4 separate regions of the Homo sapiens genome follow, and regions 1, 2 and 4 are each reported to be linked to region 3. Evidence: microRNA targets listed by miRTarBase, many of them from high-throughput screens and not tested one by one. Region 3 holds a microRNA gene; each other region holds the end of a gene's coding sequence.

Region 1 (7,103 bases), not on the chromosome of region 3:
TTCCTTCCTTCCTTTTTTTCAGAGTCTCACTCTGTCACCCAGGCTGGAGTACAGTGGCACGATCTCGGCTTACTGCAGCCTCTGCCTCCCAGGTTCAACTGATTCTCCTGCCTCAGCCTCCTGAGTAGGTGGGACTACAGGCGCCCACCACCACGCCTGCCTGATTTTTGTATTTTTAATAGAGACAGGGTTTTGCCATATTGACCAGGCTGGTCTTGAACTCCTGGCCTCAACAGATCCGCCTGCTTCAGCCTCCCAAAGTGCTGGGATTACAGGCGTGAGCCACTGTGCCTGGCCTGTGTGCTTTTCTTTTTTGTGTGTGTGTGGTGGTGGTGGTGGTGGTGGTATTTTTTAGAGATGGGGTCTCACTGTGTAGTCCAGGCTGGTCTCCAAGCAATCCTCCCACCTCATCTTCTTGAGCAGCTAGGATTACAAGTGTGAGTCACCGCACCTGGCACCATATAATGTGATAAGCGCTCTTATCACATACACCACAGTCATATTGTGGGAATTCAGAGTGGAGGTCTGAATTGGAGAGTCTCTCCAAGGGACTTGATCAGCGGGGAAAGAAGAGTTGATGGCTTCACAGAGGAAACGACGTTTGAGATGAGTTTTGAATGATTAGGAGCTTTCCAGTCAAAGGAGGGAAAGGAAACCTCAAATTACCTTTGGCTCTTCCACACCCCACAACTCAGACATGAAGTCCTGTTGTAGGTTCTACATCCAAAATGTCTCTCACACCTGTCTCCTCTTCATATTCCTCTGCCACTGTCCTAGTCCTACAGGCGCCACTTGGGCTATTGCAACAGCTCCATAACTGGTCTTTTTTTTTAGAGACAGGGTCTCACTATGTTGACCAGACTGGTCTCAAAGTCTTGGGTTCAAGGAATCCTTCCACCTCAGCCTCCCAAGTAGGTGGGACCACAGGTGTGCCACTGCACCTGGCAGTACCTGGTCAATCTGTCTCAGTCTTCAATCCCCAATCCAGTCTCCATGCAGCTGCTGGCTGACCTTCCAAACACACAAGTTTGAAGGTATCACCCCCGTCATACCTTTTTTTTTTTTTTGAGACAGAGTCGCTCTGTCACCCAGGCTGGAGTGCAGTGGCATGATCTCGGCTCATTGCAACCTCTGCCTCCCAGGTTCAAGCGATTCTTATGCCTCAGCCTCCCAAGTAGCTGAGATTACAGGCGTGCGCCACCACACGGGGCTAATTTTTGTATTTTTGGTAGAGACGGGGTTTCACCATGTTGGCCAGGCTGGTCTCAAACTCCTGACCTCAAGTGATCCACCTGCCTCGGCCTCCCAAAGTGCTGGGATTACAGGCGTGAGCCACCGTGCCTGGCTTTTTTTTTTTTTTTTTTTTTTTTTTGTGATGGAGTCTCACTCACTCTGTCACTCAGGCTGGAGTGCAGTGGCGCGATCTCGGCTCACTGCAACCTCCACCTCCCGGATTCAAGCAATTCTCCCACCTCAGCCTCCTGAGTAGCTGGGACTATGGGCATGTGCCACCACGCCTGGCTAATTTTTGTATTTTTAGTAGAGACAGTGTTTCACCATGTTGGCCAGGATGGTCTCGAACTCCTGGCTTCAAGTGATCTGCCTGCTTTGGCTTCCCAAATTGCTGGGATTACAGGCAACAGCCACTGTGCCCAGCCAATTCCTGTCATATCTGTAGGGTATTTTTTGTCTGTTTTATTTGCCCCTTGCTGGAATGTCCCAATCCATTTTCCATTTGACCCTGTACATTCTCCCTGGCCTACTCCAGGAATCAACAGGAGCTTAGCTTGGTACGATTGTGTAGCCCCTTCTGCACCATAGGCCAGGTCTGGCATTTAAGTACTTTGGAATCAGTAAATGGAGCAAGCATTCCCCTCTAGCCCCCACTGTGTGCACCCAGGCTATCTGATTGAACATCTGAACCAGTTTGTGGTTGCCATGCCAATTCTCTATGGATACCACAGCTTGCTTTCAAACCCCAACTCAGCTGGCTGGAGGCCTTGATTACTCTCCTAGTTCATCTGCCTCTGTTCCTTTGCCCCCCAGCTCCTGGCATCTCTGTGCATAGACACCTCTAAAAGATCATAGACATTCCTAAAAGGACCAGTTCCATGAGATACAGCATGCAAGAGCTTCCTGTTACTATGCCTTTTCTGCCCCCTGATCAGACCCCTTGAATATTGACCCTTAAATGAATCATGCTCAGGTTTGCAACCTCTCTTGGACTTTGCTGTTTGGACTGGTGTCCACTCCCTGGGGGAGCCAACACTATTATTGCCAAATTGTTTTAACTAGCTTCAGCCTACCTGAACCAGCCTCACTCCTTTCTGGCTCATTGAGAATTCTAGCATGTCGTAAGGCCATGGTCTCAGTGCTTATGATACTATCTTACCTTACTTTACCGTTAGTTCATAACCAGCTTTTGAACACATCTTGTCTGATTCTCAAAAAAGTTCTGTGAAAGAGGTAGAGAGGTTATTATTAACTCTCTATTGGAGATGAGGAAACAGACCTGGAGAGGGTAAATATCACGTGTCCAAGGGGACAGAGCTCATCAGTGGAGAACGAGGTCTCCTAATTCCAGTGTCCTCTTCATAACCCAGGTCACTCAGCACATTGAATTTCTACTGCGTGGCAGAGAGCATGCCTCATTTGCCTCTGTGTCTCTCTCTTATACTCTTGTGACAGAGCCTGATTTGAAAAGTCAGTCTTGGAGTCAGTCTAACTCTGCCTCCTACCTCCCTGAGACATTGTGTCCACCAGCTCCCCTCAAGGTTCCTTGGGCCTGTTCCTACCTGGTTCATGGGACCCAAGAATCCTGTGTCCCCCACTTGGGCTGTAACACCCAGCCTGATAGCTTTATTGTCCCACCACTGCCCCCTGGAGAGGAAAGCCTTGATATAGAGTTGGAGCCTCTTTCCAAGGGGGATTGGTAGAATCTTTGAAGAGAAACTACATTTCTGATGTGATGGTGGGGGTTAGCATTTCTCAATGTGGAGAGGGCATGAGGTTCCCTGCTTCCGACCAGGACCAGGATGGAATTTTAAAAAGAAAATCTTTCTCCTGATGGCATGTTGTATGGAGAGGGGATGTGTTTGTTGTATTGTTGTGGGTGAAAAGGATGGATTTCGATAAGAAAAGGAATCTCTCTCACCGTGAGGGGGTGGGGACCTCTCCTCTGATGGAACATAATGTCAGTTTCTAAGGGGAAAGGAAATTTCTTGTAGGAAAGGAATGTTCCTCTTTTAAGGGAGAGGAAGCTCTCTCTCAGGGATTACTAAGTGTGGTGGAAAGGAATACTTACTCTCTCCTTTCTTTCTTTCAATTTTTTAAAAATAGAGATGGGAGGCCGGGCGCGGTTGCTCACACCTGTAATCCCAGCTCTTTGGGAGGCCGAGGCGGGCAGATCACGAGGTCAGGAGATTGAGACCATCCTGGCTAACACAGTGAAACCCCGTCTCTACTAAAAATACAAAAAAAAATTAGCCGGGCGTGGTGGCGGGCGCCTATTGTCCCAGCTACTCGGGAGGCTGAGGCAGGAGAACAGCGTGAACCCGGGAGGTGGAGCTTGCAGTGAGCCGAGATCGCGCCACTGTACTCCAGCCTGGGTGACAGAGCGAGACTCCGTCTCAAAAAAAAAAAAAATAGAGATAGGATCTTGCTATGCTGTCCAGGCTAGTCTTGAACTCCTGGCCTCATGCAATCCTCTTGCTTCGGCCTCTAAAGGTCTCATTTCCTTCCCTCCCTCCCTCCCTCTCTCCCTCCCTCCCTTCCTTCCTTCCTTCCTTTTCTTTCTTTGTTTCTTTCTTGACAAGGTCTCACTCTCTGGCCCGGGCTGGAGTGCAGTGGCGTGATCACAGCTGACTGCAGCCTCAACCTCCTCCTGGGCTCGAGTTATCCTCCCACCTCAGCATCCGAAATAGCTTGGGACTACAGGCACATGCCACCACACCTGACTAATTGTTTTATTTTATTTTTTTTGTAGAGATGGGGTCTCTCTATGTTGCTCAGACTGGTCTCAAACTCATGGGCTCAAGTGATTCTCTCCCCTTGGCCTTCCAAAGTGCTGGGACTACAGGCATGAGCCACCACATCCAGTCTTCCTTTTTTTTTTTTCTAAAGGAGAAATCTCAAATAAAGAAAACTTCCATGCTTTCTCTCCAAAGAGGAAAAACTGTCTCAAGGGAGAACAATTCACATGAGATTGTGTCTGATTTTCTCTCCCTTTCTGATATCCAGCACTTCCTACATGGAGTCCACATACTCTGAGAGGGAGTGGCAAATAATTTCTCCTGTTCGGAGGTAAGGAAGCTGAGGAGGCAAACTTGCCATGGGGGAAACTTTTACTCTGAGAGGCTATTTGTGGGGGCAGTGACTCTAAGGAAACCCCTGTGAGGCTGGGGGAAGATAATGCACTGTTACTTGGGGAAATCTTTCAGGAATCCCAGAAGCACAGAGTGTTGAAGGGAGCTGAGAGATGTGCTGGGCCAGTTCTCGTTTGCTCATAAGGAAGCTGAGGTTCGGGGAAGGGAATGCCCCGCTACTAAGTGACAGCATCAGGACTCCAGCGCAGCTTTTCCAAGTCTCAGCCTGGGGCATTTCCTACCACAGCTGACAGGGGAGGGTGATGCTGGTGAGGAAACTGCTGCTATGAAATGTTTGACCTGTGTGGAGGCATCTCTGGAGTGGGAAGCATTGATTCCTGAGAGAAGGAAACTGGGAAAGAGGATGAAATTAGGGGCTCTGTCCAGCTGAAAGGGGTCAGGGTCATCGTGCAACCCAACAGGTGGACTGTGGGACATCAGCTTGTAGGGGATGCTGAGTTTGGAGGGAGTAAGGAGATAGGTCTCCAGATGTGCGGGGGAGGGGCTCTCACCGAGGTACCCAGGGAATTGTGCCACTCTCTGGGGCAGGAGAAATTTCCCAATCATTTCTTGTCTCTTCAGAGGGAGTTGTCATTTTTAATCTTTTCAAAATCAGAGGAAGGAGGTATGTAAACTAAATCCCAATAAAGCTGTTATTAGACAATGAAAAAGACAAGAACCACAACAACAAAAGCAACAGGGAGGAATGGCTCCGGGGCTGGCTCTGCGGCCCAGAAGTACAGTGATTTCCTCATTTGCAGCTTCAGCTACTCAAGTAACTACTTCTTTTGCCCTGTTCCTTTCTTAATCAGTAAAAAACCAAGGCCAGCTCATCCTGGGGGAGGTCAGAGGTTGCAGGAGAAAGAACTTGACAAACACACAAGCCACCTCTTCATTTACTGTAAAATCCTGTTTAATGTGTAACATTTCAGGCAGAGAGAGGCCTTGGGGACTAGAGGCAGAGGTGGCCTTGACCAACCCCTGCTCCAACTTATCTGCCTGCTTCTCTCTCCCTAACTCCCTCACCCCAGACACCTCCTCCTTTTCCTTGTGGCCAGCAAGCACTATTCCTCCTTTACTAGTGCTGGCCACCCTCCCTTCTCCACCCACATGTCCACAGCACCCCTGCCCTCTGCTCCTCTTACCCACATCCCTCCTCACTGATGTGACTCCAGAAACAGGGTATCTGACAGCACAGGGTTAAGATTAGTTTCATAATTGGAGACGCTGTCGGAGCATCCCATCTCTTGTACCCAGTGGTCCCAGAGAGAGGGAGAGGGAAGAGGGAAGGGTGCAGGCAACAAGGGCAGCCCACACTCCCAGTAACCTTGAGCACTGGCATAGGTGGCCTCTAGCTCCCCACCCCTCCAGCTCCTCAAAAGGAAGGCCCCGGGAGGAAGGGAAGTAGCCAGGGAAGGAAGGTTTTGATCGAGTAATCCCCAGCAGGCAGAGGCCTGTGCACCGGCAGGGGAGAAGGAGGGGCTCGCCCAGGGCAGGGTCGGGGGTGGGATGGGAGGTTGCCTGGTATGTGGCATCAGCAGGCCGAGCAGCGGTCGCTCTTTTCAGCCAGCCCAGCCCCGGTGCCAGGGCTGCGGCGCAGTATGTCTTTCAGGGAGCCATCCTGCTCACTCAGCAGCTTGTTGATCTCATTCTGCTTGTATTCAGGTGAGAGGCGGTGGCCGAAGCCCGAGCCCTTGCGGGAAGGTGGATTGGAGCGGCGCTGGGCTCGGCGGGCACAGGCCCGGATGATGAGGTACACCACCTCGGCCACATTGAGGATGATGCAGATGCCAGAGGCAGCTAGCATGAAGACGGTGAAGACGGTTTTCTCGGTGGGGCGGGACACGAAGCAGTCCACTGTGTTGGGGCAGGGGTAGACGTCGCACTTGACCAGCCGCACCATGGCATAGCCAGGGTAGAGCAGATAAAAGACATACATGAAGACGGCCTCAAACAACAGCCGGAACACCACGCTGATGACATAGGTCCACCACAGTGTCCCTGAGATGTGGACCTTGTGCCTCTTCACCTCCTCCAGGTGTAGGGGGTCCCCATGGCCCTCAAGCCGTAGCATTTTCTTCTCTATGTGTTGCTGGTGAGCCACGTGCATGGCCACGAGGAGAGCTGGGGTGGAAACTAGGATGAGCTGCAGGGACCACAGCCGCACATGGGAGATGGGGAAGAATTGGTCATAGCAAACGCTGTTGCAGCCAGGCTGGAGTGTGTTGCAGATGAAGGAAGATTTCTCATCACCCCACACACTCTCTGCAGCCACCACCAGCACCATGATTCTGAAGATGAAGATGACCGAGAGCCATACTCGGCCAATGGCAGTAGAATGCCGGTTCACGCCACTGAGCAAGGTGTACAAACCTGTCCAGTTCATCCTGCCTCATTCACACCTGCAAAACACCAGCCATGAAGCAAGCTGTCAGAAAGCTGGGGTGGAAAGTCGGGCGCCATAGCACTGCCTGCGCACCCCCCCTCAACTCTTCCAAGAGCCAGTAGCAGGAAAGGAAGGATGGTCATGTCTTTCCTCGTCACCCCATCTCCCTTGCCAGCTTCTCCTCCTCCTCACTCACTTGACTTGACCTCCCTGAGCCCCATCCCCCTTCTTCGCTTTCATCCAACATTCTTTTCCCGCCAGCCCCTTTCTTTGCCAAGCCCATCTTGTTCCGATATCAGCCATCCCCTATGGCTCCCTGTCCCCTAGCTCCTTAACTCCAGACCTGGGGCAAA
Region 2 (7,112 bases), not on the chromosome of region 3:
ATTGGTGGGGCTTCAAGAACCAGTCCCTTCTGTCACCCAGAGCCCCTTTCCACAGCCCACACCAAAGATGAAGGCATCCTCTTACACAGAGCAGGGGGTTTCTTCCAGATGCCCAAGCAGTCCCTGCAAACGCGGGTGCCCCATGTTCCCTGAGATTAAAGACGTGCCTGCATGATGCCCAGGGCTGGCAAGCGATGCTGGAGCAGGCTCTCAGGGATGGCAGGGATCCTCAGAGTGTGTACAGCCTGTCTCTTTGTTATCCTCTTGCTTCCTCACAACCACCCCCATTGGACCCATGTACACACAGGACCGAGCGATTCGGTGACTTGCCACAGGCCACAGAGCCAGTGAGCAGTCCCCACAGTGGCCCTCCCCTCCACCCCTGCAGAGCTGGCCTGTGAGCCTGTCCAGGTGGAGATGTGCCTCGGTCTGAGCTACAACACCACAGCCTTCCCTAACATCTGGGTGGGCATGATCACCCAGGAGGAGGTGGTAGAGGTCCTCAGCGGTTACAAGGTCTTCTGGGTGGAGGGAAGGAGGGCGGGCCTGGGAGGGGAGGAGCCTGGGAGCAGGTGCCTGAAGGCCACTCTCCCTCCGCAGAGCCTGACAAGCCTGCCCTGCTACCAGCATTTCCGGAGGCTCCTGTGTGGGCTGCTTGTGCCCCGTTGCACCCCACTAGGCAGTGTTCTGCCCCCTTGCCGCTCTGTCTGCCAGGAAGCGGAGCACCAGTGCCAGTCTGGCCTGGCACTACTGGGCACCCCCTGGCCCTTCAACTGCAACAGGCTGCCAGAGGCAGCTGACCTGGAAGCTTGTGCCCAGCCCTGACCCTGAAGCCGGCCCCTGCCCTCTTCCTGCCCGTCCTCTTTTGCCGGTCAGGGCTGGCACGCAGGGGAACAAAGGAAGGAGCATCAGCAGGGTCTCTACCCATCCTTCTCTGGGGCTCCCAGGGAGGGGGAAGAGAAGTCCTCAGCTGGGGCTCATGGGACCCTACCACCCTCCCTGCTCCTTCCTGTCCCTTTACCGGTCCCAGGCTGCTGACTGGCCCCACACTGTGCCACCGGACAATCGAGACCACTTCCCATCCAGGCCTCTTCCCCTTTCCATCTGCTTTTTCAGCTTCTCCATCGCCTGCCTTCTGACCTTTTCCTTGATTCAACAAAAATGTACTGAGCATCTATTCATGTGGCAGGCCCCTGTCCTAGGCCCTAGGGATCCAACTGGCTGTCTGCCTCTAGAACTCTCCACCCTCATCTCTCTGCGTATTTCTCCCTGAAATGGGGTCTGGTCCTTGGTCTCTGCCACTGCCCTGCCTCTCCTCTGGCCCTGGGAACAGGAGGTGCCCTGTGTGTCCGTCTCTCGAAGTTCTGCCTCTCTGTGCCCAGCTCAAGTCTCTCTCCCCCTCCTTTCTCCCCCTAAACTTTGGCCGGCCGCCGGGCGACACCACGAGTTATTTCCCAGCTATTTCCCGGTCCGGGAGCTCTTGGCCCCTGAACAACTGGTTTCCTCTTGGAGTCTGGGAGGAGGAAAGCGGAGCCGGCAGGGAGCGAACCAGGACTGGGGTGACGGCAGGGCAGGGGGCGCCTGGCCGGGGAGAAGCGCGGGGGCTGGAGCACCACCAACTGGAGGGTCCGGAGTAGCGAGCGCCCCGAAGGAGGCCATCGGGGAGCCGGGAGGGGGGGTGAGTCTGGCGGAGGAGGGGAAAGGGGCTGGGGAGGGGACTGTGGGAAAGGCTGGCGCGGGCCGGCGGTGGGAGGGAGGGCTGGCCGCTCCCACCCTCTCGCGCCTGCCTGTGCTCTCCGGATGCTCGGCCCTGCGAGCGCTCAGCCTCAGGGGCACGGCAGTGGGGTGGGGACCGACTGGGCCGCGCCGGGGTGGGGAGAGAGGCAGGTCCCAGGATTCTGGGTCCCGACTCCAGTCCTGCCTGGTCCACAGACTGCGAGAGGACCCCGGCGTCCGGGCTCCCGGTGCCAGCGCTATGAGGCCACTCCTCGTCCTGCTGCTCCTGGGCCTGGCGGCCGGCTCGCCCCCACTGGACGACAACAAGATCCCCAGCCTCTGCCCGGGGCACCCCGGCCTTCCAGGCACGCCGGGCCACCATGGCAGCCAGGGCTTGCCGGGCCGCGATGGCCGCGACGGCCGCGACGGCGCGCCCGGGGCTCCGGGAGAGAAAGGCGAGGGCGGGAGGCCGGGTAAGAAGGCACCGCCGCGGCTATCGGTGGCGATGTCCGAGCAGGCGCGGCCGCAGCTCCAGCTCCCGGTGTCCGGGACTCGGGTCTCCCGCCAGGGGGCGCCACTCCCCGCGCTTTGCAGCCCTGAGCGGGGGAGGGGCCCAGGCGGCGGGAGCCCCCTTGGCCAGCCCCCCAGATCTGCCCTGCGGGAAGGGGTGGAGGAGGTACCCGTGCGGGAGGAGGCGCTGGCCGAAGCTCAGGCAGGGGCGGGGAGGGGTACGGTGACCTTAGAGTCGCCGCCCCGCTGCGGGCTGAGCCGCCGCTACTCTCACCCTGCCGCCCCGCTTACCCCGCAGGACTGCCGGGACCTCGAGGGGACCCCGGGCCGCGAGGAGAGGCGGGACCCGCGGGGCCCACCGGGCCTGCCGGGGAGTGCTCGGTGCCTCCGCGATCCGCCTTCAGCGCCAAGCGCTCCGAGAGCCGGGTGCCTCCGCCGTCTGACGCACCCTTGCCCTTCGACCGCGTGCTGGTGAACGAGCAGGGACATTACGACGCCGTCACCGGCAAGTTCACCTGCCAGGTGCCTGGGGTCTACTACTTCGCCGTCCATGCCACCGTCTACCGGGCCAGCCTGCAGTTTGATCTGGTGAAGAATGGCGAATCCATTGCCTCTTTCTTCCAGTTTTTCGGGGGGTGGCCCAAGCCAGCCTCGCTCTCGGGGGGGGCCATGGTGAGGCTGGAGCCTGAGGACCAAGTGTGGGTGCAGGTGGGTGTGGGTGACTACATTGGCATCTATGCCAGCATCAAGACAGACAGCACCTTCTCCGGATTTCTGGTGTACTCCGACTGGCACAGCTCCCCAGTCTTTGCTTAGTGCCCACTGCAAAGTGAGCTCATGCTCTCACTCCTAGAAGGAGGGTGTGAGGCTGACAACCAGGTCATCCAGGAGGGCTGGCCCCCCTGGAATATTGTGAATGACTAGGGAGGTGGGGTAGAGCACTCTCCGTCCTGCTGCTGGCAAGGAATGGGAACAGTGGCTGTCTGCGATCAGGTCTGGCAGCATGGGGCAGTGGCTGGATTTCTGCCCAAGACCAGAGGAGTGTGCTGTGCTGGCAAGTGTAAGTCCCCCAGTTGCTCTGGTCCAGGAGCCCACGGTGGGGTGCTCTCTTCCTGGTCCTCTGCTTCTCTGGATCCTCCCCACCCCCTCCTGCTCCTGGGGCCGGCCCTTTTCTCAGAGATCACTCAATAAACCTAAGAACCCTCCTACCGGCTCCAGCCTTTCTTCTTTAGTGGTGGGGGCTCCCTGTTTCTGGGATCATGGTGTGGAGGGGGTGTTCAGGCAGAAGGGAGGGTTCTTGGATGAAATAGAGATATGCGGCAGATATACAAGAAGCCGGCCCAGGGGAATGAGAGGCTGCTCCACAGAGCCGCCACCTAGGTTGTGAATGGGAGTGTCTGACAGCGGGATGCCCTCCTGGTGTGGGGCTCCATCCATCCTTGAGAAAGGGAGCACCTTTTTCTAATTCAAAGATGCCAACTGAACCACGTAGGGGCTGCCTGCGCCACACATACCTCTGCCCTCATCCAACAAAAAAGAGCCGAGGACTTTCGTCCATGGCTGCTCCGGCTGCTTGCCTGCCCCCGATGAGCAGAAAGCTATTGCTCTGTAACCCGAGTGAGTGGCGTCCTCGGGCGTCTAAAGATAAGCAGTTTCTGAGATGACCACAAGGGGGTGCCCTGGCCCCAGAATGCCGCAGGGATCCTGGGTAGCTTGAGCTCCTGACTATGGGGGGGTGAGGGAGAGGAGGGGTATTGAGGTCGGCCAAAGGAATTCCAGATGCGGATGGAAGAAAAGGGGGGGTCCTTTACTCCCAACTCAGGAAGTTTATCTTCTATCATAAAATGTTTATCTCCACATTAAACAGAGACTGGAAGGAGCCAGGCCTCCCCTTGCTCAGCTCCCTGTCCCGGATTGAGGGAAGGAAAGAGCAAGTGCCAAGCCCTCCCAGTTCTGAGGTGGAGATGAGGAGCCCTCCCCCACTGTGCTGGGCATAGCCTGGGTGGGCCGAGCCACTGTGTCTGAGGCTAGCCACAAAGCCCCTCAAGGCTCCGCCCACCCCTGGAGCCCACCCCCAACCCAATGACTAACAAACCAGGACTGCCCAGCCCCATCTGCACAGCCTCAACCCAAGGAAGGGGGGGGGCCTCTCCTCAGAGTTTCTTTCTGAGCTACCGGCACCCCCTTCCTGAAGGCAGTCCCAGGCACTGTGGTCCCAGACAGAACATACAATTATGGGGGAGTGCCCCTGCTCTTCTGCTGGTCATGTGAGGGCAGATACGGCCAATGGGGACTCAGCCCCAAATGTGAGCCAGAGACAGGCCTTAGGCAGCCTCCACCAGGAGATCCCGCAGCCGCACTCCAGCCCAGCCCTGCACCAGACCCCCATGCCAAGACACACAGAGACACACACCAGCTCCTCCTGGGATCCGAGGGCAGACTGGACTCCAGGCAGGAGGAACCCCATGCTCCCTCCCAGGAAGACTGGCCCGGAGGAGGAGCTGGGAAGGTTGACTCAAGGGGTGAGATGGTTCACATTCCTCTCTACAAGGGCTTAATTTGGGAAAAAACAGAAAAAATAGAAGGCTTTTCGAAAGCCATGTGTTGCGAGAGGGGACAAATCAGAAGGGATGAGAGCTCACAGAGCCATGCCTGGCATGCACTCTCCCCATGACATAGTCTTCCCAGCCTATCTTAGCTCCTTCCCTGTCCCCCCTCTAAAGCCCAGGTACCCCCACAGCCCACACTTCTGACTCTGGCGGGGCTGAAGGACCCTGATGCAAGGTCTGTTGCCTTGACCAACTGCTCCCTTGCAGGGATGCACACAGAGACTGTCAGAGCTGTCAAGAGAACTTTATTCATTGGAAACTGGGCCAGAGACCCCTCACGAAGCTGCAAGCCCCTGGGCCCTGGGCCCTTCTGTATTTGGACCCTAGTGAAATGTGCACAGTCTGCCCTCTCCATGCCAGGGAGAGACAGAGAGGAATGCCATTTTTCTGTGTGATGTGGGAGTGACAGGGGAAAGAGCAGAAATCCGGTTATCCCTCCTGAGACTCCCAGTGAGCTGGGGTGCCACAGGGCACGTGGCCCCAAAGTCAGGTGCAGATGCATCCCCCATCCCAGGGGTAAACTCCTGAGACTGGCTTTTGGATCAGGTTGGGAGGGAGCCTCATCAGACGATCACAGGCAGAGGTGGCTCTGAGGGCACCCGAGAGATACTAACCCCAACGCCTACCAGGGCACAGGGGCTCTGGCTGAACACAAAGGTTTAAGATCATCCGAAGGCCCCTGAGTTGCCAAAACACCCAAATGACACTGATGTGTTGTGGCCGCAAAAGCTGGGGAGGAAATGTGAAGGAGGCAGGAAAAGGACCTATAGATCTCCAACAGAAAAACCAGAAGCAGACAGGGGTAACCCCAGAGGCATCTGGGTGGGCCCTGGGCAGGCTGGAGGAGAGCCCACAGCAAATAGTCTCAGGGCCCTTGCATAGTGACATACTCACCACCCTCAGCATCGAAGGGACCCACTGGGTAAAGAGAAGCCATGTTATCCTGCCCCCACCCAGATCATAGTCTTCCAACTCAATGTCCTGGATGTATGGCAGGATGGCCACAGGGGTAGGAGGGGATTCAGACCAGGACCCGGAGATGAGGTGTTAATGCTGTCCTAGCGTGAGTGCCTGCGTGGAGCATGGAGGGGTGGGCAGGCAGGGAAGGAGGCTTCAGAGGTAGACATTGAGGGTCTGCAGGATGCCCCGGCGGCAGAGCGGGCAATTGCGGTGGTAGACGGGGTGGCGCATCAGGATTTCAGTGCAGGCCTGGCACAGGCACAGATGCCGGCAGGGCAGGAGCAACACTGTCTTGCTCTGGTCCTGGCAGATGACACACTTCTTCCGCTCCTCTTGCTCCTTCAGCAATTTCCAAGGGTCTTGCCCACCTGGAGGCTCCTCCTCATTGAGCCTCTCTCGGCCCCTGACAGGTGTCACTCTGATGGTCCTGGCCTCCTCCTCTTCTGCCTCTGATCTGCGCCCCGCTTCAGGAAGAGTGTCCTGTCTCCGGGTCCTAACTGAGAATACCCTCATAGGGTCACCCTGGGGAGCTCCAGGTGCCCCTCCCCGGTTTGGCCAACTCGCCAGCTGCAGACTGCGGCTCCAGACTCGGCGCCAGGCCTCTGAGCCCAGTGCTAGGCGAGAGAGCCGCATGACATCCTCTCGAAGACGGTGGTAGGATGGCCGGGCATGGAGCTGGCTGAGTGCCTGGGTAGCCAGCCTCAGGGTGAAGTCCGGATGCAACACAGTCACCGTCACTGCCAGCACACAAGCTAGCAACACCAAGCCAGTGAGATTGACAAGCACAAAGCTGGCCAGGAGGCGGGCAGCTGAGGCCAGCAGCTCCAGGGCTAGTTGGCAGGGTGTCCAAAGGAGGATGGCCATGGCCACAGCACTGCTGGAAATGTGGGCTAGGAAGGCAGCCACTACGTCCGTCATCCTCCACAGAGGCCCGGTCACTGCATCCCACAGGGCCAGCACCAGGGAAAAGAGGTTCTGAGTGCCGATGAGGCAGATGTTGACCAGGCTGTTGATCACATAAGCCACCAGGCTCATGGCAATGGCACAGATGTCACAGGCCTGGCGCAGCAAAGCATGGCCACTGGAGACCACATTGAGGACGCCCCGGTGCAGTATCTCCCTGCTCCGCAGTGCCCCATGAGAGGCCAGGTGCCCCAGGAGCTTTAGGCTCTCTAGGCCAGAGCAGCAGCTATACAGCAGAGTACACAAGGCCTGCAAGCCCCCACATGTGAACCGGACCACGGCTTCGATCAAGGCCAGCAATGAAAGCAAGACTCCGCGGCCCAAGTGCAGAAGACTAGTCAGTACCGTGTGCGG
Region 3 (7,112 bases):
AACTCAGGGCGGAGAATGGAGGATATGGGAAGGGGTTCTGGGGGCAACCCTGATCCTAAGGACCTGGGAGGCCTAACGGCTCCCCCACACCCACCCCCCAACCCCTCGGCGCCCAAGGCAGGGTCAGCCCCACTCTCAGGAGACGGGGGGTTCCTTCACTACCGGGGCCTTTGTGCTCCCAGGCGCATGGAGGAGGGCAGCCCCACGGTGCTGGAGTCTCCCCAACATGGCCTGCCCAGGCAGCACCCCGGCATGGTCCCCTGGGGCTGGGGCTCCGGGTCAGGCCTGGGTCCCACGGTACTTGAGGAAGGTGCTCTCCAGGAAGGCGGCCAGCTTCATCCGGTCGTCCTGCGGAAGGAGGGAGGCATGGGGGACGGAGGGGCGCGGCCTGCCCCGTGCGCCCCCTCCGCCAGGCCGCGCCGCACCGCCCAGCGCACCTCGTGGAGGAAGCCATAGTGCACGAGCTCCGAGGCGAGGTCCTGGGCGCTGTCCGCTGAGGCAATGGCGTAAGGCGAGGCATGAGGCCGCTGCCCACCCGCCGCCTGGGGTCACCGCCCGCCGCCCAAGTCCCCTGCCCAGCCTACTTGGGAGCAGGTCGTAGGTCAGCTGCCGGTGCAGCCGGTCTTCCAGCACCAGAAGCAGAGTGAGCTGGGGAGGCGGCGGGGCGTGGTCGGCTGGGGGTTCAGGGCTCCGCCACGCTCCCGCCTTCCCCACGGCAGCGCCGCCCTCCCAGGCCCCGCTCACATGCCAGCGCGCCTTGTCCTCGCTTCTCTCCAGGTTGCACTGCATCTGGATGACCTGCAGCGGGGGAAGGCTGGGACTCACAAACCCAGCAGCAAGACCACATGCCGCGGCCCCAAAGGGGCCGGGAAGGGACAGCAAAGACTGGAAAGGGGGGAATCTCTAAGAGGAGCCCATCTCACTGCTAGTGGCTTGGCAAGCTAAGGAAAGCTTCGAGAAGAGTCGACATTAGGGGCTGGGTACTGAAGGCTGAATAGGAGCTTTCACCGCGGAGAGAACAACTTGAACAAAGAGGGAACTGTGGGCGTGGGGAAAGGGAGGTTGGGCGGGACAGGACCGCGCCGAAGTGCACGGTGCCTGCGGGATCAGGCCTCCCAGAGCCTGGGTGTCAGCTGAGGACTCCCATGATCTCTGCTGGCAGCCAGGAGCAGGCAGTTTGCCTGTTAGGACATGAATTCTGGCTGCACTGCACCGAGAGAGGCCCCTGGCCAGGAGGGGGTGCTGCAGGAAAAGTCTGGGGAGACACCAGGACATAGATGTCCGGGAATCAGCACCAGGTGGGGGATGGGAGGGGTGGGGGGGGTGGGAGGGGTGCGGGGGTGGGGGAAGATTGCTGGCAGGGTGGAAGAGCCCGGGTGAGTTCTGGAGGAAGGATGCTTGGAGTAGGTTCAGGGCAGGCAGCAGGATGCAGGGGAAGGATCTGAGGGGACAGGGAGCCTCCCGGAAAAGGAGAGTGCCCAGCCTGTCCTATAACCCCCATGACCCCCACAAGGGGGTCAGCCTGGATCTGGTCTCTGGCAGCCAGGAGGAGAGCTGGGCTGTGGGGATGCAGGCCCTAAGAGAAGGAGGGGCACCTCTTATCTGGCTGTTAGAAGGTCTGAGGGATGGCACTGAGCAGCAGGAGAGGGGACTCACCTTTCTGGTCTCAGAGTCAAAGGGCTCTGGCGTCGGGGTCTTGGCCTTTTGGACCTCCTCCGGGGGTGGGGCCAGCACACGGGGCAGCCCCAGGGGTCGAGTGGCTGCAAAGTTCATCAGTGGGTAGATTCCATTCCTGGGGACACAACAGGGTGGCTGGGGGTTCAGGCCTGACAGCTGCCTGGCCCCCAACCTTACATCAGTTCTCACCTGACATCCTCCAGGAATTTGTCCAGCTCCATGAAGGAGACTTCCGAGTACCTGGCATGGAAGTGGGAGGCACATGAGGGGCTGGCCGGGGCGAGGGGAGGGGAGGTGCGGGGAGGGGAGGTGTGGGGAGGGGAGGCTTCTGGGTGCTGACTGCTCACCGCCACTGCAGCGGGGGCCTGCGGGGCCGGGGAAGCTCCGCCAAGACCGCGTGCAGGTCCATGGCCTTGGTCTTCTCCTCCACCACATTCTCAGGCATGAGGTCTGCGGCCACAAGAGCATCAAGGCGGTGTGCTCAGGCCGTGGGTCCTGCAGGGCCCCTTCCACGTCCCAACCTCCACCTCCCCAGCCACCCCCCGGGCCGGCCTGCTGCTCACACTGGTGCTGGATGAAGCAGTGGGCTGCCAGGAGCTTCAGCGAGTGCACCTCGAAGAGCACGCGGTGGAAGAGGAGGCTGTGGGCAGAGGGCCGGCGGGCAGGGTCCCGGGCCAGGCAGCAAAGGATGAACTCCTGGGGCACAGGGAGGAGAGGCTGGTGGTGTGCAAGGGCTCTCTGCTCTGGCCCCGCAGTTCGAGGAGAGGTGGCCCCTGAGTTCCCCATGTCCCTCCTCAGGGACACACAGGACATGCAGGGATGCCCATAGGGAGGAGTCCCAGCAGCAGCAGCCAGGCCAGGACCTGGTCCTCTGAGCTTGAGGACAGCTGGGTTCTGGGATTGGAGCACCATGCTCTGCTTCCCTCGACCCCCAAAAAATCGTGGGGAGAAGCCATGATCCTAAAGTCACACCTGCAAGCCTCCTACCCATGGCCTTTTGATCGGCTCAGCTCGGGCCCAACACTGGAGACGACCTTGATGGGTCCCCACTCTGTCCACATCCGTGCCCAGCCCGGCTCCAGCTCGCCACCAGCCCCGACCAGGCACCCCCATCTCCTGAGGCCATGGAGTTAAGTCTAGACTCCGAGCAGAGGGGGCTGTGGATGCAGCTTCCATCCCATACCTCTTTTTGCCTGCTTGGCACCCACCATGTCCCCCCACAAGCTGGAGCCTCATCACCTCCTGGAAGCTTAAAGTCAAGGACTTGGAGTGAAGCAGACCCAGGTGCAGATGTTGGCTCCACCACTCACTCTAAAGCCTTGGGCAAAGGACTCATCTCCTCTGAACCTTGGTTTCTTTATAAAACGGGCATGGTGATGGCAGCCACAGAGGGAGGGTCTCTCTTGCCTTCTTGTCCTTAGAATGTGCTGACCCCTTAGGGCCTTCAGGCCTGGAACCAGTATGTGCTCCCACTGAGGTCCTCTTTGGGAGGGGTGCAGTCAGCTGGTATACCCCTCAACTGCACAAACTGTGATGTTCTCCCAGGTCTGCCTGGAGCACCTTGCTAGCCCTAGCTGAGCACGGTGAGCCAGCTGGGGAGGGGCAGGGCAAGCTGCTTACCCGCATGTTGGGGTCACTCAGCGAGTGCCTGGCGCGAGCAATGGCCTCCTCTGTGACCCGGGTGTCCCCATTGGTCTGGATTTCCAGTACAGCCATCTGGGGCACAGAGCCAGGTCAGGCATGGGGAAGGGACCACACAGGTGAGCCAGGCAGGGCACAGTTAGGAGGAGGGCAGAGCACAAGGTGGAGGGCGGGGGCAGTACCTCCAGCGCACACATCCCAAAGGAGAAGATGTCCACAGCGGTCCCATCGGCCACCTCTGAACAGAAGAGAGCACAGGACACGTAGGAGAGAAGCGCAGGGTAGGCACGGGGCACCCGGACCCAGCACCACTCACCTCCATACTCTGGGGGGAAGAAGTGCAGGTTCCGAAGTTCCTCTCGCTCAGCGCGGATGGGGCTTCGGAGATCATCTGGAAGTGCTGTGGGAGGGCGCAGAGCTGAGCGGGCGGGGACCTCTCCAGGACCCCGTCCCCCCAAAGTCCGCACTTACCATTGGAGAAGATTCGGTGCCACACTGCCAAGGGGCGGGAGAAAGAGTGGAGTTAGCTGCTGGGGCATCAGAACTCCTCTGCCCTTGGCTCCAGGCACCTTCCCCTGCCCCGTTCCCCCACCCAGCCCTGCCCCGCCAGCACCGGAGCCGATCTTGATGAGGCCGTTGTGCTGAATGAAGATGGTGTCGCTGGTCAGGTTCCCGTGGATGATTGGGGGGCTGCAGGCGTGCAGGAAGCTGCAGACGTTGGGGAGGGGAGAGTAGGAGGAGCCGGTCAGGAGGCTCTGGAGAGATGGGGGCTCGGTGGCGCCGCGCCCAGGCCAGCCCAGGCCCTCACCTGAGCGCAGACAGGATCTGCGTGCACCAGCGCTTCCAGGCCTGGCGGCGGACGCACGACTCCGTCGGTCGGGTGGGCGCAGGAGAGGCGGCTGGGCCTGCGGAGCCCGCCCCGCATCCTCGCCCAGCCCCTGTCCGAGGCCGCCGGGCACCCCCTCACCATCCCAGTCCCCGAGGCTGCCCCAACCCCGTCCTGTCCCCGTGGCTGCCCCAGCCCGCTCCCCATACCCGGGCGTTCATGGCCTTGTGGTTCTTCTTGGTCTTTTTGAGGAATTGCTTGAGGCTGCCTGATGACACGTACTCTGTGATGAAGATGACCTGCACGGTGCGAGCTCAGGATTTCCACCAGCTGCGGGTTCGTCCCCATGCCCGCCCCACCTAGCTGTGGTCTCTGCCTGCCCGGGGCCTTGCCCGTGCTCACCCTCGCGCAGGCCTCAGAGGTATCCAGCCAGTACTTGTGCAACTTCACGATGTTCGGGTGGTCCACCAGCACCAGCTGCTCGAACACGGTCTGGATCTTCTCCTGGGGAGGGAGGGTGGTCGCTGGGTGGTCAGCAGGTGGTCACCCAAGCAGGATGAGGAGGGGGCAGCGGTCTCACCTCGTGCGCCGCGAAGGCCTTCCTGTCTCCGAAGTGGAGCTCGTTCCACACCACCTCTACCCCCTCCTCCGTGTCCATGGCTAGGAAGGTGCTCTGAAGCCCTGGCATGTTCCCTTGGTTTACCTGGGGGTGAATAAAGGGTTATGTGTGCCCTGGTGTGTGTCAGGGTTGTGGGTGAGGATTTGGTCCCTGTCCACACCTTTCCAGTGGGCCCAAGCGTGGGCTGCAGGCCCTGAGCCACTCTGCGGGAAGGTGGGGCTTGGAGGGTAGCTGCCCCCAGGAGCCAAGGGCTCCTATCCAAGGGCTGGGCTAAGGGGATTTGGAGCAGGTTTCAGGGGGTCGAGGGGGATCCCCAGGAAGCTAGCGGCTGAGTCCAGAGGCATGGGGAGGTGGTCCTGGGAGGAGACTGGCCCTCAGGGAGTCCCAGGGCGAGCGCCAGGCCAAAGGGGTCCAGGGGTGGCTGATTCGCGGGCCGCGAGGGGCCGCGGAGAGGTTTCCAGCCGCCGCGCTCTCCCAGCGCCCCCACGCCCCGCGCAGCCTCCAGGCCCCTCCCGCTCTGGGAGGGCGGTGTCACCCCGTGCCCCAACCCCCGCGCCCACCTGCTCCCGTCGCTTTTGCCAGCGACCACACGGGCTTTCCTCCAGGATGTCGCTCTCGTCCTCGCTCTCGTCCTCCCGCTCCCGCTCCCGTTCCCGGGCCCGCCTCGGCGCCGGCTCCGGGGCCGCCATGGTTCGGCCAGCCCAGGCCACCGCCCTCTGCGCGATCCGCCGCCGGCGCAGCCTCTCCCGGCCCGCCCTGGCCTCGCGCCCAGCAGCCCAGCCTAGAGCCGCCGCGGCAGCCTAGAGCCCCAGCCCCGGCTCTGGGAATTGGGAGGCGCGGGCGCGCGGCGGACGGGCGGGGCCCGGGGGCGGAGCCGGCGCGCACCTCCCGAGCCGCCTGTGCCTGCCGGAGCCAGAGCAGAGCTTCCCCGAGAGCTGCCGAGCCCGGGCCGCGCCCAGGCCCCGCCCCCCCGGAGGCCCCGCCCCGCGAAGCCCCGCCCCAGTCCCTGTTTCCTCCTCGTCTCCCAGGCCTGCTCCGCGAAGCCCCTCCCCAGGCCCTGTCCCCTCCTCGTCCTCCAAGCCTCCTTCGCGAAGCCCCGCCCCAGGACCCGCCCCACCCCCGCGAATCCCCGCCCCGTTTTAGTCCCCGCCCCCGCCCGTTCCCAGGGTCCTCCGCGAAGCCCCACCCCAGGCCCCGCCTCACCTCCTCGAAGCCCCGCCCCTATGAGGCCCCGCCCCGCGCAGAGGAACCGCCCCCAAATCCCCGCCCCCTCGGAGGCCCCGCCCTGCGGACACCTGGAGCCCGGAGCGCCCACTTCTCTCGCGGTTGCTCCCCTAGGATCTGGGGGAAGACCCGGGGCATCTGGGGGCCCCCAAGCCCACGGCACCCTCCAGCTGCAGAAGACCCCGCGGGCTCGAAAGCGGGACCCGCTCTCCTGGCCACGCACTCATTCCCCGGCCGACCCCCAAGGGACAGGTCGAAGGGGCACCGAGGGCGGGGGAAAGGCCCACCAGCAGGCTGACCCAGGCTGACTTTGATCGGTGACCACGAATCTCTCCCTGGCCCGCCCACCAGTGCCTCCTCCCGCCCACAAGCCCATCTTCTCACTTTCCAGGATGGCGATTTTCTCTTTTCTCCTCAAACGCGCATTTCCTTTCCGCGGCTGGCTCCCATGGGACAGTGGAACCATGAGGGGGGAGCCCACCCGGCTCACACGACCTCTCCCTCCGGAGGCCGCTCTAAGCACACCCTCCAGCCACGCCGACCACCGGGGCTGTCCCCGATTCTCACCTAAAACCCCCTTCAGCCCACAGCCCCCACGGCCTTCCTGTGGTCTCCTCCCTCCTTCACGGCGGGTCCTCATCCTTTACCTTCTCTCTCTGGAGCCCAAATTGGAACTCCGCTCCTCCCCTCCGCGCAGCTCCATGCACTGGCCCTTTGGGACGCCTCTTTCTTTCTTTGGCAGAGGTGCATCTGGCCCTGCTGCGTCCCCTGTGGTCTCTCTTTTCTGACCAGCCTTGGTCACCAGGCACCTTGTGTGTGGTTTCCACCAATGCCAGGTGATCCTGCTGAGGCCCTCTGCAGTAAAGGTTTGGGGTGTTCAAATCCTCCACCCTGAAACTGGCCCTGACCAGCTCCTGGGAGACACCCTCTAAGCCCTTGGAATGTTCTGCCTGATTTGAATGTCTGTGTTTACCTCGGCCACACCAGATTCTATGCTAAGCTTGTCCAACCCGCAGCCCAGAGGGTGCATTCGGCCAAGGACAGCTTTGAATATGGCCCAACACAAATTCATAAACTTTCTTATTGAGATTTTTTTTAAAGCTCATCAGCTGTTGTTAGTGTTAA
Region 4 (7,112 bases), not on the chromosome of region 3:
TGAGAGCTTTTAGCATTTAGGGTGGGGGGGTGGGTAAGAAATGGTCTCAGTGAAGTGAGGGAGGCAGTTGGCACAGATGAATGAACTGAAGGTCCCTACCCCATCCAGTTTCCGCAAAGACATTTCATGAAGTCATTCAGCAAGGAACCCACTTTCTCAGACTGTTGATTTCTTAATTTGAGGAGTGTTTCTCAACTGGTGATTTTGCCTTTAAGGACACATTTGGCAATGTCTGAGGACATTTTTGTTTGGCATTCTCAGGGGTGGTGGGGTGTTGATAGCATCTAGAGGGTGGAGGCGGGGTCTCTGCTCTGCACAGGAGCGCCCCCTCCAGGAGGATGATGCAGCCCCAATGCCAATGGTGCCAGGGGTTAGGGGCCTCCACCTAGAGTCATGCTTCTTCCAGCGTCAGGGGCAGGGAGACATTGGCACGGCGGGGAGAAATATTCTCAGAGAACCAAACAGTGAAAACCGCCAGGCAAAGGAGCTGATTTAGAATATGGAGGGTGCAGATTAGGGACAGACGCAGAAATGAGGTGGTGATGTTTACTTGGGGTGATGGGGTGGTCCATGGGAAGTCTGGTGTGTCCAGTCAGGAGGGGACAGACATGTCCCTACTTCCACCAGTATAGACACGGCAGTCATTGCTCTTGGTTTTTCCTCTTCAGGGAGAGGACTTTCTGCTACACAAGAGTATTGACGTAACAGGTGACCCAAACTCTCCGAGACCCAAGCAGACCTTGGAGAAGGATCTGAAGGAAAACAGGGAAGAGAACCCAGGACTGTCATCCCCAGAGCCTCAGCTTCCAAAGAGTCCCAGTGAGTATGAAGACTTGGATCCACAGGGGTTAGTCCCTCTCTTCTGGGGTGCGGGGCTGGGGGCCCAGCATTATCATCCCCTGGGGCTGGCGATCAGCTGCCAAAATCTCTCCTCCACTTTCCAGAGACCTACAGTCCAATGTCTTAGGCTTGAGGTTGAGGGGAAGTTCTCAGCCAAGGTCAGTGTTTGGTTGCAATGAGTTTGGTGTATTGAAAATCGGCTTTGTTAACTGTTGTGTGTGGAATCCCTTCTTCCACCAGATCTGGTGAGAGCAAAGGAGGGGAAGGAACCCCAGAAAAGAGCCTCTGTGGAAAATGTGGATGCTGACACACCTTCTGCCTGCGTTGTGGAGAGAGAAGCTTTGACTCACAGCGGGAACAGAGGAGATGCTCTGAATCTGAGCAGTCCCAAAAGAAGCAAACCAGATGCCTCCTCCATTTCCCAAGAAGAGCCTCAAGGAGAAGCCACACCTGTGGGCAACAGAGAATCCCCAGGACAAGCTGAGATCAATCCAGTTCATTCCCCAGGCCCTGCGGGCCCGGTCAGTCACCCAGATGGCCAAGAAGCCAAGGCCCTGCCGCCCTTTGCATGTGACGTGTGCAATAAATCATTTAAGTATTTTTCCCAGCTAAGCATCCACAGGAGGTCACACACAGGAGACAGACCCTTTCAATGTGATCTCTGTCGGAAGCGCTTCTTGCAGCCCTCAGACCTCCGAGTTCACCAGCGAGTCCACACTGGCGAGAGGCCCTACATGTGTGACGTCTGCCAAAAGCGGTTCGCCCACGAGTCCACCTTACAGGGCCACAAGAGGATCCACACCGGGGAGAGGCCGTTTAAATGTAAATACTGCAGCAAAGTTTTCAGCCACAAGGGGAACCTGAACGTTCACCAGCGCACCCACTCCGGAGAGAAGCCCTACAAATGTCCCACCTGTCAAAAGGCCTTCCGTCAGCTGGGGACATTCAAGCGTCACCTGAAAACACACCGGGAAACCACCTCCCAGTGATTCCAGAGTCAGGTCCACATCCTCCACCCCAAGAGACAGTGAATGATGGTTTTTCTCCAATGTTACCAGATGACATATACACATAAAGCACTTGGTAGGAATTGCCCGGATGTTTGAATAAATATTTATCCTCCCCCATGAGTTTTGTTTTCTGTTTGATTATGTCTGTTGCTTTCTTACAGATTTATTTTAGTGTCTGTTGCTGTTTCTCTTCCAATGAGCAAAGTCTCATCATTTTCCAATATCTCATAAGAAAAAAACTAAGCACAGTGGCACGCATGTGTAATCCCGGCTACTGGGGAGGCTGAGGCAGGAGGTTTGCTTGAGTCCAGGAGTTTAAGTCCAGCCTGGGCAACACAGTGAGACTCCACCCCAAAAATAAGTAAAGAAAAAGTTCAAGACCAACCTGGGCTCAAGCGAGTGAGACCTTGTCTCTATAAAATAAATAACTTTAAAAAATAACAAAAAATAATAATAAGTCTAACAAATATTCCACAGACATTTATGGAACACTTATCAGCTGATATTCTAGGCACTTGGTATATATCCTTAAACAAAAGGAGATGTATTAAAAATAAGAATAAAAATTAGAAGTAAGGCTGGGCCTAGTGGCTAATGCTTGTAATCCCAACACATTGGGAGGCTGAGGCAGGAAGATCACTTAAGGCCAGGAGTTCGAGACCAGCCTGGGTAACAGTGAGACCCCCATCTCTACAAAAATAAAAATAAAAATTAGCCGGGTATGATGGCACACCTGTAATCCAAGCTACTGGGGAGGCTGAAGTGGGAGGATTGCTTGAGCCCAGGAGGTTGAGGCTGCAGTGAGCCATGATTGCATCACTGTACTCCAGACTGGGTGACAGTAAGGCCCTATCCTAAAGAGAAAAATAAAAGAAAAGCTGACATGACTGCCTAAATATTGTATTCATGGCATAGATGCAACAAATTTTTTTAATGCAATCATTGGACTTGGGCTGCTAAAAAAATATTAGAAGGCAATAATTTATTTATTTATTTATTTATTTATTTATTTATTTATTTATTTTTGAGACAGAGTCTAGCTTTGTCACCCAGGCCGGAGTGCAGTGTCAGATCTCGGCTCATAGCAACCTCTGCCTCCCGGGTCCAAGCGATTCTCCTGCCTCAGCCTCTCGAGTAGCTGGGATTACAGGCGCCTGCCACTGTAGCAGGCTGAGTTTTGTATTTTCAGTAGAGATAGGATTTCACCATGTTGGCCAGGCTGGTCTCGAACTCCTGACCTCAGGTGATCCACATGCCTCGGCCTCCCAAAGTGCTGGGATTACAGGTGTGAGCCACCGCGCCTGGCAATTTTTGTAGTAGAGATGTAGTAGAAATTTTTTTGATAGAGATGGGGTTTCACCATGTTGGCCAGGCTGGTCTTGAACTCCCGACTTCAAGTGATCTGCCCACCTTGGCCTCCCAAAGTGCTGGGATTACAAGCGTGAATCACCGTACTTGCCCAGTAAATTATTTTTTGATAAGAAAAAAGAATCCCATCACATAACACTGCTTCAAAACCTCACTGCAAAGCTGGGTGTGGTGGCTCACACCTATAATCCCGGGACTTTGGGAGGCCCAGGCAGGCGGATCACTTGAGCCCAGGAGTTAGAAACCAGCCTGGGCAACATGGCAAAACCCCATCTTTACTGAAAACACAAAAATTAGCTGGGTATGGCGGTGCATGTCTGTAGTCCCAGCTACTCAGCAGGCTCAGGTGGGAGAATCACTTGAACCCAGGAGGTCAAGGCTGCAGTGAGCCAAGATCTCCCAACTGCACTCCAGCCCAGGCAATAGAGTGAGACCCTGTCTAAAAAAAAATCTCACTGCAGCCTCTCGTATTAACTTAATCACTTTAAGTGATTGCTTCTCCCAGGGACGTGAGTCTCCAGCAGGGCGAGAACTCATCTGCTTTCTGCCTCCTTGAATCCCCGACATTTGACTCTGTATAATTATTATTTTTATTATTATTATTTTTTTAGTCTGAGTCTCGTTCTATCACCCAGGCTGGATGGGGTGCAGTGGCACAATCTCAGCTCACTGTAGCCTCTGCCTCCTGGGTTCAAGCAATTTTCACGTCTCAAGCCTCCGAGTAGCTGGGATTACAGGCACCTGACACCACACCCAGCAAATTTTGTATTTTTAGTAGAGATGGGGTTTCACCATGTTGGCCAGGCTGGTCTCGAACTCCTGACCTCAAGTGATCCTCCCGCCTCGACCTCCCAAACTGCTGGGATTACAGGCGTGAGCCACCATGCCATGAATAGTAATTAATTAATATTAATTACTTATTAATTATTTATTGTAATTTATTGTAATAATTATAATTAATTACAATATTAATGAATAAGTATTAACAATATTAATACTTATTCATTATGCGAAGAAAAACCTCAGGATTCCCCAAACTCCTTATGCAAAAGGAGAGGTCAGCCTGGTGGCTGAGTCAGGCAGCGCCCTCTTCCAATTGGACAGCAGTTGCTGGCATTTGGCATCAGCCAGATCCCCACGGAAAGGGAAGAGGCCCCGGGCATCCACGAATGCCCCCGCAAATCATTCATAAGGAAATTCTTTGCTGACTTCCCATAAACAAGAACTCACCCTTTGTAACTTCAGGTCTACAATGTAAGTCTAGCTCCTAAAACTCAGGTCTGTTTTATTCCACACTGACAATGTCCATTACTAGCTTATCTTCTGAGGCGTGGAACAAAGATAAGATGAGCTCAGTCATTCCTCCACCTACCCAAAGATGTCTAAGTAATTGGTGCTTCCTTTACTCCCTTTACGCCCTTTTTTGCCTTCAAACATGCACTTTATCTTATGTAAAACGTTGCACTTTGGGAGCCCAAGGCGGGCGGATCACTTGAGGTCGGAAGTTCAAGACCAGCCTGGCCAAAGTGGTGAAACCCTGTCTCTACTAAAAATACAAAAATTCACCGGCCATGGTGGAAGGCGCCTGTAATCCCAGCTACTCAGGAGGCTGAGGCAAGAGAATTGCTTGAACCCGGGAGGCAGAGGTTGCAGTGAGCTGAGATTGCGCCACTGTACTCCAGCCTGGGTGACAGGGTAAGACTCTGTCTCCAAAAAAATAAAAATAAAAACATAGGCCGGGCACAGTGGCTCATGCCTGTAATCCCAGCACTTTGGGAGGCCGAGGCAGGCAGATCACGAGGTCAGGAGATCGAGGCCACCCTGGCTAACACGGTGAGACCCCGTCTCTACTAAAAATACAAAAAATTAGCCAGGCATGTTGTCGGGTGCCTGTAGTCCCAGCTACTCGGGAGGCTGAGACAGGAGAATGGTGTGAACCCGAGAGGCGGAGCTTGCAGTGAGCCGATATCACGCCACTGCATTCCAGCCTGGGCGACAGAGCGAGACTCCGTCTCAAAAAAAAAAAAAAAATTAAAATAAATAAATAAATAAAAAATAGAAACATATATTTTTTTTAAATGTAGATTTACTGGGCACTAACTAAAGACTGATAGGAATTTAACCATTCAGCTCACCACCTACCCACCCCTCTGCCTCTATGCCTGCCCCCGTCTAAGGAAATGTATAAATAGTAAATATCCTGAAAACTTCAGAAAAACAGCCACAGAGGTGTCTGTGGCTCACCTTTCCCTGGACGTGCCCCACAGCCGATTTCATAAACCTCGATGGATGGAGACTGACAGTGTCTCAGTCACTCATTTTGGTCATTAATTACTTTGAGTCTCACTTTGTTGCCCAGGCTGGAGTGCAATGGCACAATCTCGGCTCGCTGCAACCTCTGCCTCCCGGGTTCAAGCGATTCCCCTGCCTCAGTGTAACACTGTGGTTTCTTTTTCCTGTGACTCCTCAAACCCAAAATGAAAGTAAAACTTTCAGCAAAACAATAATCCAAAATGGATTGCCTCCAATAGGTTATATTTTCCCCAGTCCCTCACCTGATTCTGTCATCCTGGATTTCCCAGTCCCACACCTGACCCCATCATCCTGGATTCTGCTACCCCTAAAAAAATTCCCAGACTAATTAAAAGGGAAAAAATGGAGTGTTTGACAAGAAACATTTTATTCTCTCCATTCTGCTCCAAACTGCCTCTCCTCACTTCTCGAGGAGACTCATGTGGGTTGAAAGAATATGGAGGAGTAAGTACGCAATTTGAAGAATCTTTTCAAATAAAGACACAGACTCTCAGACTTAAGAGGGTTATTTGTATTATGCAATAGCTCGTGTTATAATTGGGATGATTCCAAAAGAACACAATTCCTTTAAATGTGTTGCAGGAATATTCCCTGATTACCCCAGAATCTCCCAACTAGTCCTCGAATTACTATTGGTTCCATTAATAGCACATTATACTGATTTCAAGGATGAATCAATAAAACCTAAGAAACTCCAGAAATTTTTTAGAATAATTCAAATGCTTTACAATGTCTTCATGAGACCTGGGTATTTAACTTCAGGATCTTAGTCTCAGCATAGGGTACCTAGAAAAGGTTTCAGAGGGAGCAGGAGGAGCTGGAGAAGAAGGATAGGAACAGGGATTTGAAGACATCTATGACTTCAGGACATCTTCCTCCTTGGGAATTTTCATGCTGAGCATGCCCAGATCTGTGGGAAAGAAAGAGGTAAACTTTGAATGGTTTTTCTCACTATCACTCCCCACCCAGCTAATTTTTGTATGTTTAGTAGAGATTGGGTTTCACCATGTTGGCCAGGCTGGTCTTGAACTCCTGACCTCAGGTGATCTGCCCACCTCAGCCTCCCAAAGTGCTGGGATTACAGGCGTGAGCCACCGTGCCTGGCCCCTTCTCTCTACTTTCATCTGCCCACATATTCTCCCTTTCCGCCCACATTTTAAGAAGGCACATGGTGATGGTGGGTGTTTTCAAGAGTCAGAATGTAATCGAGGTGAGGATGGAAATTAGTGAATTCAGGGAGCGTATCATACCCAGTATTGTCCAGTACATGCTTTTGAAATGAATTAGTGCTGTTGAAATAAGGACATGGCGTCTCCAGGAATTGAGTTAGGATTGAAGAAGGAGCTGGGCGCAGTGGCTCATGCCTGTAATCCCAGCACTTGGGGAGGCCGAGGCAGGCAGATCACGAGGTCAGGAGATCGAGACCATCCTGGCTAACATGGTGAAACCCCGTCTCTACTAAAAATACAAAAAATTAGCCAGGCGTGGTGGTGGGCACCTGTAGTCCCAGCTACTCAGGAGGCTGAGGCAGGAGAATGGCGAGAACCCAGGAGGCAGAGCTTGCAGTGAGCCGAGATCGCG

The links. The annotated mature microRNA hsa-miR-6845-3p reads CCUCUCCUCCCUGUGCCCCAG and lies in region 3 at 2,374-2,394, opposite strand. An mRNA with a match to its seed (bases 2 to 7 or 8) in the 3' UTR can be bound and repressed. Matches are read on the target gene's strand: a 7mer-m8 pairs with bases 2 to 8, a 7mer-A1 pairs with bases 2 to 7 and ends in A, and an 8mer does both.
Region 1: miRTarBase lists GJB1 as a target of hsa-miR-6845-3p. Seed matches in the 3' UTR shown: 7mer-A1 at 5,371-5,377.
Region 2: the mRNA of MFRP is a reported target of hsa-miR-6845-3p. Seed matches in the 3' UTR shown: 7mer-A1 at 2,162-2,168 and 7mer-m8 at 2,559-2,565.
Region 4: miRTarBase lists GALP as a target of hsa-miR-6845-3p. Seed matches in the 3' UTR shown: 7mer-m8 at 5,926-5,932 and 7mer-A1 at 5,902-5,908.

What each region holds. Positions count from the first base shown.
Region 1 is chrX:71,223,355-71,230,457 of GRCh38, reverse strand. It overlaps GJB1 (gap junction protein beta 1), which reads right to left. Exons shown (of 2, transcript NM_000166.6): 2 at 4,942-6,766. The coding sequence starts at 6,750. The coding sequence ends at 5,899. Among named protein-coding and RNA genes, the nearest start is that of GJB1, 3.7 kb to the right of the region's middle.
Region 2 is chr11:119,335,261-119,342,372 of GRCh38, reverse strand. MFRP (membrane frizzled-related protein) reads left to right here. Exons shown (of 15, transcript NM_031433.4): 12 at 389-516; 13 at 601-1,678; 14 at 1,933-2,189; 15 at 2,525-3,431. The coding sequence ends at 825. It overlaps RNF26 (ring finger protein 26), which reads right to left. Exons shown (of 1, transcript NM_032015.5): 1 at 5,064-7,112. The coding sequence ends at 5,949. It overlaps C1QTNF5 (C1q and TNF related 5), which reads left to right and starts at 1,490. Exons shown (of 3, transcript NM_001278431.2): 1 at 1,490-1,678; 2 at 1,933-2,189; 3 at 2,525-3,431. The coding sequence starts at 1,976. The coding sequence ends at 3,042. RefSeq lists a silencer at 2,272-2,371.
Region 3 is chr8:143,835,383-143,842,494 of GRCh38, forward strand. MIR6845 (microRNA 6845) reads right to left here and starts at 2,434; the gene lies at 2,374-2,434. It overlaps NRBP2 (nuclear receptor binding protein 2), which reads right to left and starts at 5,591. Exons shown (of 18, transcript NM_178564.4): 1 at 5,324-5,591; 2 at 4,725-4,847; 3 at 4,547-4,648; 4 at 4,354-4,443; 5 at 4,127-4,167; 6 at 3,932-4,026; 7 at 3,790-3,813; 8 at 3,635-3,718; 9 at 3,501-3,556; 10 at 3,298-3,393; 11 at 2,241-2,373; 12 at 2,025-2,127; 13 at 1,867-1,917; 14 at 1,657-1,792; 4 more. The coding sequence starts at 5,452. The coding sequence ends at 280. RefSeq lists enhancers at 1,439-2,166, 5,478-6,208, 6,209-6,938 and a silencer at 5,493-6,052.
Region 4 is chr19:56,184,544-56,191,655 of GRCh38, reverse strand. It overlaps GALP (galanin like peptide), which reads right to left. Exons shown (of 6, transcript NM_033106.4): 6 at 5,881-6,441. The coding sequence ends at 6,386. It overlaps ZSCAN5B (zinc finger and SCAN domain containing 5B), which reads left to right. Exons shown (of 5, transcript NM_001080456.5): 4 at 669-819; 5 at 1,081-1,970. The coding sequence ends at 1,829. Among named protein-coding and RNA genes, the nearest start is that of ZSCAN5B, 9.7 kb to the left of the region's middle. RefSeq lists a cis regulatory region at 4,157-4,755.